Linked DNA regions of Homo sapiens. The protein of the gene in region 2 interacts with the protein of the main gene of each other region in a pairwise test. Each region holds a gene or a part of one and is shown on either strand. Other genes may lie near its edges.

Region 1 (3,748 bases), on a different chromosome or scaffold from region 2:
GTCATGGACTTGGGCATGGAGACCAGCCAGCCAAGAGGCAGGTGGGAATAGATCTGTGGGGCCCTACATGCCAGGTGGATGGTTGGGCTGGACACTGCAGGCAGCGGTGGCCATGGGCAGGGCATTGATGGGTGGGGGTGGCATTCCTCAGAGGGTTCATCTGCTGATGGCCCTGAGGATTGTGGTCACAGGACTACAGGTGTCCTTAGGGACCCACCTTCTGTGAGAGAGTTCCACAGGAGCAGCACTCTGGGGAAGGGGAAGGCCAGGGTTGGGGGGACAGCTGGGGAAGTGAAAGCGTGGGGAGGCCACCTGGGCAGGGCAGCGGGGAAGTGGAGCTGCAGGCCCAGGCTCCCACTGCACAGGCCATAGGGCCCTCCTGTGTCAACTGCTAGCAGAAGGCACAGTCAGTGGGGCCTTTGTGTTAAATGAACATATGGACAAAGTGATGCTCCAGCTTCCTCCAGCAAGGTGGGAGCAGGGTTGCTGACCTAACAAAACCCCGAGATACTGAACTCCATCCAAGCCAGGAAGAAAGGGGGAGGCAAGGAAGACTTGCAGCTTCCACTCTGCCTGATGGGTGGAGCCCAGCCTGATGATCCCTAGCTGGACACCTCACCTCCCAGAGCCTCCAGACATCATCGAAGGACTTGAAGGCACGCTGGAAGCAGAAGCAGAACCAGGGGAAGAGGGACTGCACAGCCCCTGCACCCTTCCCTTCTGTGGGGAGAGAAGGTGAGGCTGTGGTCAGGGGAAAACACATATGATGCAGCAAACACATGCAGATGAGGCCAAACTACAGAGCCTGCAAAACACTTGGGAAATACAAAAAGCCTGCCGCCCCTTTTCCAGCTGCCCTGGGAGATGGTTTAGAGTCAACTTTCAACTGTCCAGGCTCCAACCCCATCCAGATAACCCTCTTCCCAGGGCCTGGAGAAGCAATCAAATGATTCTGCTGCTCTCCAGCCCCCCCATGATTAGGGACTGACAGTTGGGTCCCAGCCCCCTTCCCATGCCTGGGGGGTGCGTGAGGTGGCAGGAGGTGGGAACCACTCACTTAGGTGCTCAGCAAACACGGGGTCCAGGAAGGTGATCAGGGTGCTGAGCATGTCTAGGTTCTTGGCCACGCCAATGTTGATGACACAGCTGTGTTCCTGCACACGATGGTGGGAGACAGACTGAGTCCCCCTTGGCTTCAAGGCACCGGAAGAGTCAACTCTGCTTCCCCCAGCTTCACTTCTGGAGGCTCTGTGTGTCTGTCTGTGCGCTGGGCCCATGTCTCTATGAGTCTGAGTGTGTGTGTGTGAGTGTGTGCATACATATCTATGTGACTGTGATCTGTGTATGCAAGTTTGTCTGTATATGTTGTACGCCTCTGGGTGGCTGTGTAGTGTGTGTGTGTGTGTGTGTGTGTGTATGTGTGTGTAGTAGAGATTCTCAACTGTGGCTCACAGTCTAGTGAGCCCAGTTGCCCAGTTCTTCCCTCACACAATAGTGTTGGGGCAGAGCCAACTGGGACAAGGGAAGGGCAGCAAGCACATGTGCAGGGATGGTGGGGTGGAGGGAGGGATGAGGGAGGGTTCTGGGCAGCCTCTCGCAGATCATGAGGAAAGGCTTTCCAGGGAGGTGTTCCAGGGAGCTGCACCTTCAAAACCCCTCAACTTGGACAGTGAGGGAGCCCCTGGGGACTATTGAGTCCCCTGGTGTGCCTGGAATTCAGGTTATGTGAAGGGAACAGCCCTGAATGACTGGCTAAGGTTATTGGATTTTATTCTGGAGGCCACAGGGAGCCATTGAGGAAGAAGCAGCGAGGAGGGAGGAGAACCGTGCTTGGGGAAGAAAATGCCAGGAGAGGGCACCTTCCCTGGGCCTGGCCAGCCATGCTCTTTCAAGGTTTGTTGAGAGGTGGACCCAGAGCTTTGCTCCATCCCCCTTCTCCACTTCAGTGCCTCCCCACCACCACTACTTTGAACCACTGGGTTTAGCGTCACCCTCCCAGGCTCCTCTGAGACCCAGAAGCCTGGAAGGAATGGCTGGGGTGGCCAATGCCTGCCCATCCTCAAAGAGTTGTTTGGGGAGTAGTGGGGGGTTGGGGAGGGGCGTCCCTGAGCTCAGGCCTTGCCCTCACCGTTTTCTGCAGGAAGAACTGGAAAAGCCAGAAGGTCTCGTGGTCGTGCTCCACCATCAGCTGGAAGAGCATCATCATCTCATGGAAGCCCTGCTGGTACTCTGTGGCGAAGAGGGGGTTGGGGAGGAGGGGCTGGGTGGGAGAGCCTGGACCCTTGGCTTAGGTTGGGCCAGGTCCTGGGAGGGCATTGACAAGGGGAGGCTGAGGCTCACCTGCCTGCGTGTTGCAGACGTAACTCAGGAGCAGGATCTTCTCTAGCCTCTTCTTGTCGATGAGGACGTTGCCCAGGGGATCTTTGTCATAGATTTTCTGAATGTCACGTGCTAGGTTGGAAGCAAGGGGCAAGTAGGTGGCACCAGATCACATCCAGCAGGTCTATGGGTGAATTTCTTCCCCTACCCCAATGGGCAGGCCCTAGGACATCCTGGAGGGAGAGGGAGCTGTGAAAGGTACATCAGCCCCTGCCAGGCTCAGTTCCTCACCACACCTTGAGCTGTCTGTGTTTCTTCCCACCTCCAACCCTCTAACGAGGCCGTACCCTCGGCCAGGAATGTCCTCCCCCACCCTTCCTCTCTGTCCAGTTCAAATCCAACCTCATTCAAAGCCAAAGAAAGGAGAGAGGAAGACCAGGCAGCAGGAACATCATGCACCCAGGAAAACATGGTATGGGGCATCTAGGGCCACCCAGGAGAGACTGGTGGGGTGGATTAACCAAGGTTCAGCTGGCGAAACTCCAGGCACAAGTCAAAGCAACTCCCAGGATCCTGGAGCCATCCCTCCCTGGAAGTGGCTGAGAAGGGGGCAGGGTTGGCTTCAAGCCCTCCCTCTGCCCAGCCCTCTCCACCCCACTTTGCTCACCAATGTTATTGCGAGTCTCTGTGAAGTTCCGGTGCAGGTTTTCCAGAAGGGGCTGAATCTTCTCATACATTTGGCATAAGGCCTTGTAGTTCTTCCTGTGAGAACAGAACTGAGGCTGAACAAGGTGGCTTTTCCCCTTCTGATAAGTGGTGAATGAGCAGCTGCAGCTACCAGGCCCCAGGCAGATCCAGGGCAGCACCCTCACCCAGCCATGCACCCTACCTGTGATGCTGTCCCTCATCTCAACCTGTGCCACCCTAACTGTCCTCCAACATGCACCTGGACTGCAGAACAGAGACAGTTTAACTTCTTGGGCTCTGTACTCCAAACGCTGCACCTGAATCCTGGCTCTACATCTTAATAACGGGGTGTCTGCCACTGGGGGCAAGTCTTGGGGACACGACTTTCCATCTCTAAGCCTCAGTTTCCCCATCTGTAGAATGGGCATAATACTGGCACCTGTGCCTCAGAATTGGAAGTGCTGAGTGAGGCGGTGTTTTGTCCTCATTATTAGAATATGATTAGTTGGTATTGCTGGCCGCATGGTGGCCTCCAAAAAGACATATCCATGTCCTAACCCCTAGGACCTGTGAATGTAACCATGTGGGGGAAAAGAGTCTTTGTAGATGTGACTAAGTCAAGGATCTCCGGACGAGATCCGTAAGACTTTCCAGGTGGACCCCAAATCCAATGACATGTGTTCTTATAACACACAGAAAGCAGAAGGTCTCACCACCATGGGGACAGGGAATGGAGTGAGGC
Region 2 (3,748 bases):
CCAAACCACCCTCCGCTGACCACAGAAGCCCAGAGGAACCTACAGGTTGGACCCTGAGGCCAGAGCTGGGAGTGGGGAGGGCGGCGGGATGGATGGGAAGAGCCACAAAAGACGGAAAGACACAGGGACACGGGTCCTCTAGCTCAATCACATCCCGGCCGAGGGGGAATAAAACGAAGCAGACAACTCATTCATGTTCCACTCGAGCCTCTTCAGCACATTTTTCCCTTCTGAAAATATTCCTTAACAAAGAGCTGCCTGCTTCTGGCAGGCCCCGACCCAGGTCTCAAATGCCAAGATAGAAGGAAGCTGTTTTGTTTTGGCCAAACACACTAGTTGTGGGTGAAAGAACTCTCGGGCTGTCAGGGGCCAGCTCTGAGGAGCAACCTGGACCGCCCTGCTGGCTCTGGCATTTGAGGCCAGTAGGCGTGATGGGGTCAGGAGGCTGGGGGCAGACTTCAGGACGGAAGCCAGGAGCTGTGAATCCTCTCCCTTCCCGCCAGGGGGTGGCATAAATCAGGGGGCGGGCAGTGGTTCCTTCGGGACACTAGTGTAGGAGAGAAAGTGAGCGTCCTTCCCTTTGAAAGGGCACAGCAGGGAAGGATGGATAACTTGGCAGAGGCCTGGGGCAGGTTCCCACAGGGGTAGGTGCTGGGGGATTCTGGGGCCCTGTCACCCTCCAAGGCTCCAGTGTGGGCGCTGGTTTGGTGGAGGGGCAAGTTGGCTTCCTGGGGTGCGGCAGGCACCTCATGGTCTCTGGAATCTCTGCTTGAGCTGGGGGAGCTGTCGGGGACTCTGGGAGGGCCTGGACAGGTGGGATCTGAGGAGGGGTGCAGAAGTGTTGAGTGGGTGGGGGCAGGGGCAGATATGCCTGGGGTCTATGTTGGAGCTCTTAAGTTTTTCTGTGTGTGCTGGGGGATCTAAGTGACTGTGTGTGTGTGTGTGTGTGTGTGTGTGTGTGTGTGTGTGTGTGTGTTTGGGGTTTTCAGAAAGATGGGTGGCTCTGGATGGGGAGTGGGGTGGTTCAGAATATCCAACGGGAGGTCTTGAGCATGGGTGGATTTTTCAGGATCCAGGAGCCAGGATCCAGATGGGGCAGGATCAGTGGAGCTACCACAGTGTGCTGGGTGGACGCCGGGGAGTGGTGTTTAGGGGTGCCCTTGGGCATGTGGCAGCTGGGGTGGGAGATGGGCTAGCAGGCTGAGCTGAGGGCTGTGGGCAGGGGTAGGAAATCCGACTTACAGAGGCCAGAGAGGGGTCCTGTGGGGTCAGCATGGGGGGCGGGTAGGCCCTGAGGCTGGTCTCCTTGGGGAGAGGTGGGGGCAGTTCTGGGCCCAAGATAGGAGGACGTGAAGTGAGGGGGTGCGGGGAGGGGGTGGCAAGTGTTGTCCAGAAGGGAGGGGTCCTGAGAGATCAGGGCAGAAGGTGGACGGGGGTTCTTGGGCTTGGGGGGCGCTTCTGAGGGGCTGATCGGCGGAGTGGGGGGATGGGGAGCCCTGAGGGGGTTCCCGGAGAGGAGTCCTGAGGGTCACTGCAAAGGGTGGACGGGGGTCCTGGGCCTGCGGGGTCCTCATGGGGAGGGGACGGAGTGGGGGAGGGGGATCCTGCAGGAGCTCCTGGGGAGGGGTCCGGAGGGATCGGCAACGAGGGTGGGCAGGGGCCAGGGTCCTCCGAAGGTCCCGGGCTGGGGATGCCGAGGCTCCCAGCGCGGGTTCCGGGGCACGACGGCCCGAGTTGCGGTCCTGCCGGTTCCCCGCGGGCCGCATCACGGAGCCGCCGGCCTGAGCAGGCGCCCGGGAGGCCCGGCCCGCGCCGCCCTACCTGCGCCGAGCGCGCCGCCATCTCCGTGCCGAGCCTCGCCGCCCCGGGCTGAGCCGCCGGATCCTAGCCGCGCCGTTCGCCCCGCAGCCCCGGCCCGGCCCCCTCAGCCGCCCCCCGGGACCGCGGCCGCCGCCGGCTCCGCCGCTGCCATTTCACCCGCTGACAGGAGCCGCTGCCCCGCCCCCGAGGCCCCATCCGCCAATTCGCCGCCCCCAGGCGCCCTGGCCCCGCCCACCAGCCAGGAGTGACGGGGTGTCTGACCATTCCGTGGCCATTCCGTGAGGCGGGCCCTGGCTACGTTCAGAAGGTTGCCGCCTCTGAGGAGAGAGCGAATTGAAATGAGGGAAGCGGTGAAGGACAGGTAGTTTTGCGTATCGGAATGAGGAATCCTATTGATCAACACCTGATAAGACCAATAGCAAGGAAAGTGGGGGTGTGTCCGTGAGGAAAGGCTGCGGCCCTGAGGAACACCAGGCAGACGCGGCCAAGCGTTTGGCACTAAGCCCCGCCCAGAGCCGGGCTTTCTGCCCAATAACGAGACGCCCCGAGACGTCCATTATTATCTGCCCCTCAAACCTGGGCCCTGGCAACTGCTGGGGGCGCCATAAAGAAGATTGACACCTAGGGAACCAATGCTACTGAAGGAGGGCGGGAAAGTGACACTCTCTGACCAATGGGTATGTGAGATTGGTGGGAGCATTGGCGTCCTGGGCGGTGGGGCTTGAGGCCTGGGTTGAATGAAATGGGGGTGGGGCTAAGAGGAGGGCGTGGCCTAGGCCAGAGATGGGGCGGGGTCAAGCAAGGGAGGGGCTCGGGGGTTGGGTCTGAGAAGGGGCGTGGCCAGAAATCCTGAAGACTCACTGGGGACGTGATGGCACCGTGTCGTCTAGGAGCCCAGTTCTGTGCTGGGGACGGGGCGGTTGATATTGGGGGCGGGTCCCATAAAAGATTCAGGCCCGTCCCCTGTCTTACTCCAGGCCAGGTTAAATGTGTTCTCTAAAGCTCACAGAGCCGCGTGTTTCTCCATCAAAGCTCGGTTCGCGCCGTGATCGTGGGGAGGGATAGGCCCTCCCATTCCCCATCCTCCCAGGCTGATAGATCCTCGGGGAGTCGGGATGCAGGGCCTAGGTCGGGTCTCTTCCAGGTCCCCAGCATGGAAACTGCTTATAAACATTTGATGAATGAATGAATGAAAATGGGCCCGTGACTCTTTTAACAGAGAAGGGAGAGGTGGAGAATCCTTCAAGCTAGAGAGGAATTCGTAGGGACAGTTACTGACAGCGGGCAAGACTGACCAAAATGGACTTATTTCCTCCCCAAGATGTAGGGATGGGCCCTGGAGGGGGTGGGGCAGGGAAGGACCTTGTCATAGCAGAGAGGGTGACGTCATAAGTGTGTTTTTATTTATTTATTTTTCAGAGACAGGGTCTCGCTCTGTGTCCCAGTTTGCAGTGCAGTGATGCGAACATAGCTCAATGCAGCCTCGAACTCTTGGACTCCAATGATCCTCCCGCCTCAACCTCCCCAGTAGCTGGGACTACAGGTGCGTGCACACCATGCCCGGCTAATTTTTTTGGTAGAGGCTGGGGTCTTGGTATGTTGCTCAGGCTAGTCGGAAACTCCTGGTGCCAGGTTCTCCCACTTCAGCCTCCCAAAGTGCTGGGATTACAGGCATGAGCCACCTCGCCCAGCTAGATGTCCTAAGTTCAGAATGGGGAAGGGAAGGCTGGACCCAGGGAGGGGCACGTCAGGACTTCCTAAGGTCTGAGAGCTCAACCTTCTCTGTAGTAGGAGACTCTGTGTGGCCTTGCAAGCAGTGACTGACATCCACGTATGGTCCCGGCCTCTGTCCAGCTCTCTCTGCCTCTCCCTCCCTCTTCCTGTCTATTTTGCATCTGCCAACGTTCTGGAACTGTTAATAAACCTC
Region 3 (3,748 bases), on a different chromosome or scaffold from region 2:
TCTTTGGTGGCAATTTTAGGAATATACTAAAGGTACTCCCCCAAAAAGGGCACTATACCTTCTTATGGAATATCTTATTTAACTTCAGTAAGATGAGAAGTGCCGTTTGCCTATGTGCACCAAGGACATCTGTGGAGTCATAGATTCCTCACAGTTGAGGTTCAGCTAAGAACTACTGACTTTATACAGATCACTATACACATCAATACACTTTGCAGAATGGCTGTTAGTAATGCAAACTTTGAAATAACCTCATTAGATAACTGTGAGCACGTAGGCTTCCATACCTGGTTTTAATGATTTTGAAATGCAGACAAGCCAATGGCACTTGGGCAAAGGGTGTTTTGTTCACTTCAAGTCAAGACTAATGATTCAGACAAATTTAAATGAACCCAAACGGTTTCATGAACCATGGTCAAGGCTTTGTGGAGAAATTATATATGTCTCTCTGTAAATGGGCCAATTGCTTTGTAAATATCACATATGACTTAAGCCCTCAGAGTGCAAACAGGAAAAGAGGCAGCCAGAGAGAAGGCATATATGAATTTATATGAATTCTGTGGGTGAGACTCGGGTTAGATCTACTTACTAAATTCCACTATAAAGAGGAATGGGCTTCTTTTTCAGATGCTAAGGCTGTCCTGAACTTCTAGAATAACTGGAATATGACATAAACCACCTTCTCTAAGATAAAGCCCTTCTCCACTTCAAAGCCAAGACTCATAAAGATATATCCTAAGGGTAAAGCCATTTCTGCAGTCAAGTGAAATGATGGGATGTTGGACTGGGTTTGAGTTCCTCCAAAAACGGCGTTGCTTTGGGGGAGTTCATCATAGGGACCACTTCTGGGGATTCCTTTATTTATATAAAAACCAAAAAGCATCTTTCTCTAAAGAGGACCAGCCCCTCAGGCCTTCTTTTCAGTATTTGCATATGGCTTTGAGGGTAGGACAGGTTAGTCTTTTTCCCCACCTTATCCCTGGAGCCCGGCCCAGTGCCCAGCATGTAATTCTAGAAGCAGTTTCTGATTGATTCAGGTTCCCCAACCCAAGGAACTCAACGTTTGATCAGCTCCCACTACTTTGTCTTTCCCTTTTCCAATTGCTTATGACCTCGGACACTCAGAACCACTGATGTGAAACCACCCACCTGGGTGCTCTCTCGGTGGTGACTTTCTGTTCAAGGGATCAAATAAATAATCAAATGGACCACTGATGACCCGCGACCTGCTGGGAGGCGAGGCTGACCAGTGAGGCTGGCAATACCATGTGAGTGGGCCCACCTGGGAAGGTTCCAAGTAGTGAGGTCGACGATGCTATCTTCACTCGTCAGAGGAGGAAGGGATGGGCTCCTTCTTGCAGGTGCCGTGCTTGGCTCGGTGTCGTTGGAGGTGATTGGACCTGGTGAAGGCCTGGCCGCAGTCCTCACACTGGTAGGGCCTCTCTCCGTTGTGCATTCGTATGTGCTGGGCCAACTCAGAGGCAATGCGGAAGGCCCTGCCGCACTCGGCACAGAGGAATCCCTTCTCCCCGGAGTGGATCTGTTGGTGCCGCTTCAGGGTCGAAGAGCGGGCAAAGGCCTGGCCACACTGCGTGCAAGGAAAGGGCCTCTCGCCAGTGTGGATGCGCTGGTGGCGCACGAGGCGCGAGGGCTGCGCGAAGGCCACGCCGCAGTCAGCGCACTTGAAAGGCCTCTGGCCGGTGTGCAGCGTCTGGTGCTCGGACAGATTGGAGGACTTGGTGAAGCACTTGCCGCAGGTGGGGCAGGGGAAGGGCCGCTCGCCCGAGTGCACGCGCTGGTGCTCCACCATGCGGCTGGCCACAGCGAACTCCCGGTCGCAGGCGGGGCAGCGGAAGGGCTTGGCGCCCAGGTGCGTGCGCTGGTGGCGCAGCAGCGACAGCGGCTTGTTGAAGGTCAGGCCGCACTCGGAGCACGGGAAGGGCTTATTGTTGCTGTGCATGTTGCGCTGGTGTTTGCGCAGGTCCGAAGAGCGCACGAAGGCCTTCCCGCAGTCTGGACACGGGTAGGGTTTCTCGCCTGTGTGGGTGCGGATGTGCTTCCGGTGGTCGGAGGACCAGGTGTAGGCCTTGTCGCAGAAGGAGCACTGGTAGGGCCGCTCGCCCGTGTGCAGGCGCCTGTGCTGCTGGAGTGTGCCGCGGTGGGAGTAGGCCTTCCCGCATAGCTCGCACGCGTAGCGCTTGGCGGCGCCGCCGCGCGTCTCCGCGGGGCTCAGCGGCTTGCTGGGCTTCTGAAAGGCCCGCCCGCCCCGCAGGCACCTGTAGGGACGCGCCTCAGCCTCTCCGCCCTCGCGCCGGCCCGCCTGGTTCTGTACTTTCCTGCTGTTCCGCGCTTTTGCCAGGACCGCGGCAGCCAGGCTGGCTGGGGTGGCCGACGCCTGGGCTGGTGTATGTGTCTCTTGCGTGGGAAGGTCCCAGTTGCTCCCCGGCCTGGGGAAACACAACAGAGAAGAGTTCCCTGCGGACGTGTCTACACTTTTGTGCGCACAGAGATACTTTCCATTGCTGGGGAAGCTGGGTGGGACATCCAAGACTGCGTCCTGGTTTGCCCCCGAGTATCCATCATCACCCGCAGGTAGTCGGTCCCCAAGAGGTTGCATCTGACCTAACAATTTGTGTGCGAGACCACTGGGAAGGGAACCCAGAGCTCTGCTTGCTCCCGGGGAACCCTGGGTCTCGTTGATCTTTGTCACATCTCTGCTCCAACTGGCTTTCCCAGACATTTCCACTGGTTTCTGCCCCATGCCCCCAGCACTGGAGGAGTCAGAGAATTTCTCTTCCTCTTTGCCCAGTGGATGGGGCCATGGCAAGTCAGGATTTTCGTGTGTTACTGGGGAGCTGCCCCTTGGACAGGCCACCGGGTCAGCGGTGCCCTCTTTTTCGGCCTCCCCACCATCTTCATCGTCACTCTCTAAGTTCATGCTCAGCATCTGGGTGTCATGAGCTTCCTCAGTCAAGCTGCTGAGAGGAGACGCCTCTCCCCACCTGTCCTGGGAGTCCACTTGTGCCATGATGTTCAGGCGCTTCTATTGCCTACTCCTCTGAGGAGGAGTATCCTGCTTGGCTCAGGATACCTGCAAAAAGAAAAGTACGAAGAGAAAATCACAAAGAATGTACTTAATCACTTTCATGAGCAGAGGGACTGAGGTTCCCACTATAGCTCTGTTTCCAACTGGTCTCCATGTCAGGCATATTGTTGAGCCTCACTGAGGACAGAGGCCTGGCTCTGCTGAAAATTCCAGTCATCCTATTCCCTCTGGAGATCCCACTTGCTATAAGCCCCAGGAGACCATGCTGTCAGGAATAGCCAGGGTGGGGCATTTGCTGGGTGCCAGCTGTGCCTTGTCCTGTCTAGGGTGCTCATCCCCAACCACTAACCAAATGTGTCCTTTGTCAGCATGGGGGACAACTCGATGAGAGGGTAGGAACCAAGCTGTGGTCCTCCTAAGACACTCTTACAGTGTCCCCCACTCAGGAAGCTGGAAACCAGGCTGGCTTTTGCTGTCCCTGCCAGGAATGGAAGTCTGCCATCCCATGATGGTGTCAGCTAGGGTTACCTCTCAGGCCCTGGGCTGTGTAGGCCACCTCTTCCAAAGATAAGGAGCAGCCCTTGGGAGAATGAGGGTGAGTCAGGAAGGCACCAGTTGCCCCTCACTGATTAAGCGGGGCTTCTCAGGCCCTTGTAACTTCTGAGGAACTCCTAACTGCCAGGAAGGCTACCCATAAGCACC

What was found.
Region 1: the proteins of EVI5L (region 2) and TBC1D21 interact in binary tests that used the Homo sapiens proteins (3 or more experiments, as listed by UniProt).
Region 3: the proteins of EVI5L (region 2) and ZNF648 interact in binary tests that used the Homo sapiens proteins (3 or more experiments, as listed by UniProt).

What each region holds. Positions count from the first base shown.
Region 1 is NC_000015.10:73,883,484-73,887,231, reverse strand, and holds part of TBC1D21 (TBC1 domain family member 21), read right to left. Parts: intron 3,082-3,748; coding exon 2,987-3,081; intron 2,452-2,986; coding exon 2,341-2,451; intron 2,230-2,340; coding exon 2,129-2,229; intron 1,155-2,128; coding exon 1,058-1,154; intron 721-1,057; coding exon 620-720; intron 1-619. UniProt on the Homo sapiens protein: Acts as a GTPase-activating protein for Rab family protein(s). Essential for the establishment of male fertility, and is required for both the production of normal sperm number and sperm function.
Region 2 is NC_000019.10:7,828,455-7,832,202, reverse strand, and holds the start of EVI5L (EVI5-like protein), read right to left. Parts: upstream 1,986-3,748; 5' UTR 1,822-1,985; intron 1-1,821. UniProt on the Homo sapiens protein: Functions as a GTPase-activating protein (GAP) with a broad specificity.
Region 3 is NC_000001.11:182,054,983-182,058,730, forward strand, and holds part of ZNF648 (zinc finger protein 648), read right to left. Parts: intron 3,092-3,748; 5' UTR 3,029-3,091; coding exon 1,322-3,028; 3' UTR 1-1,321. UniProt on the Homo sapiens protein: May be involved in transcriptional regulation.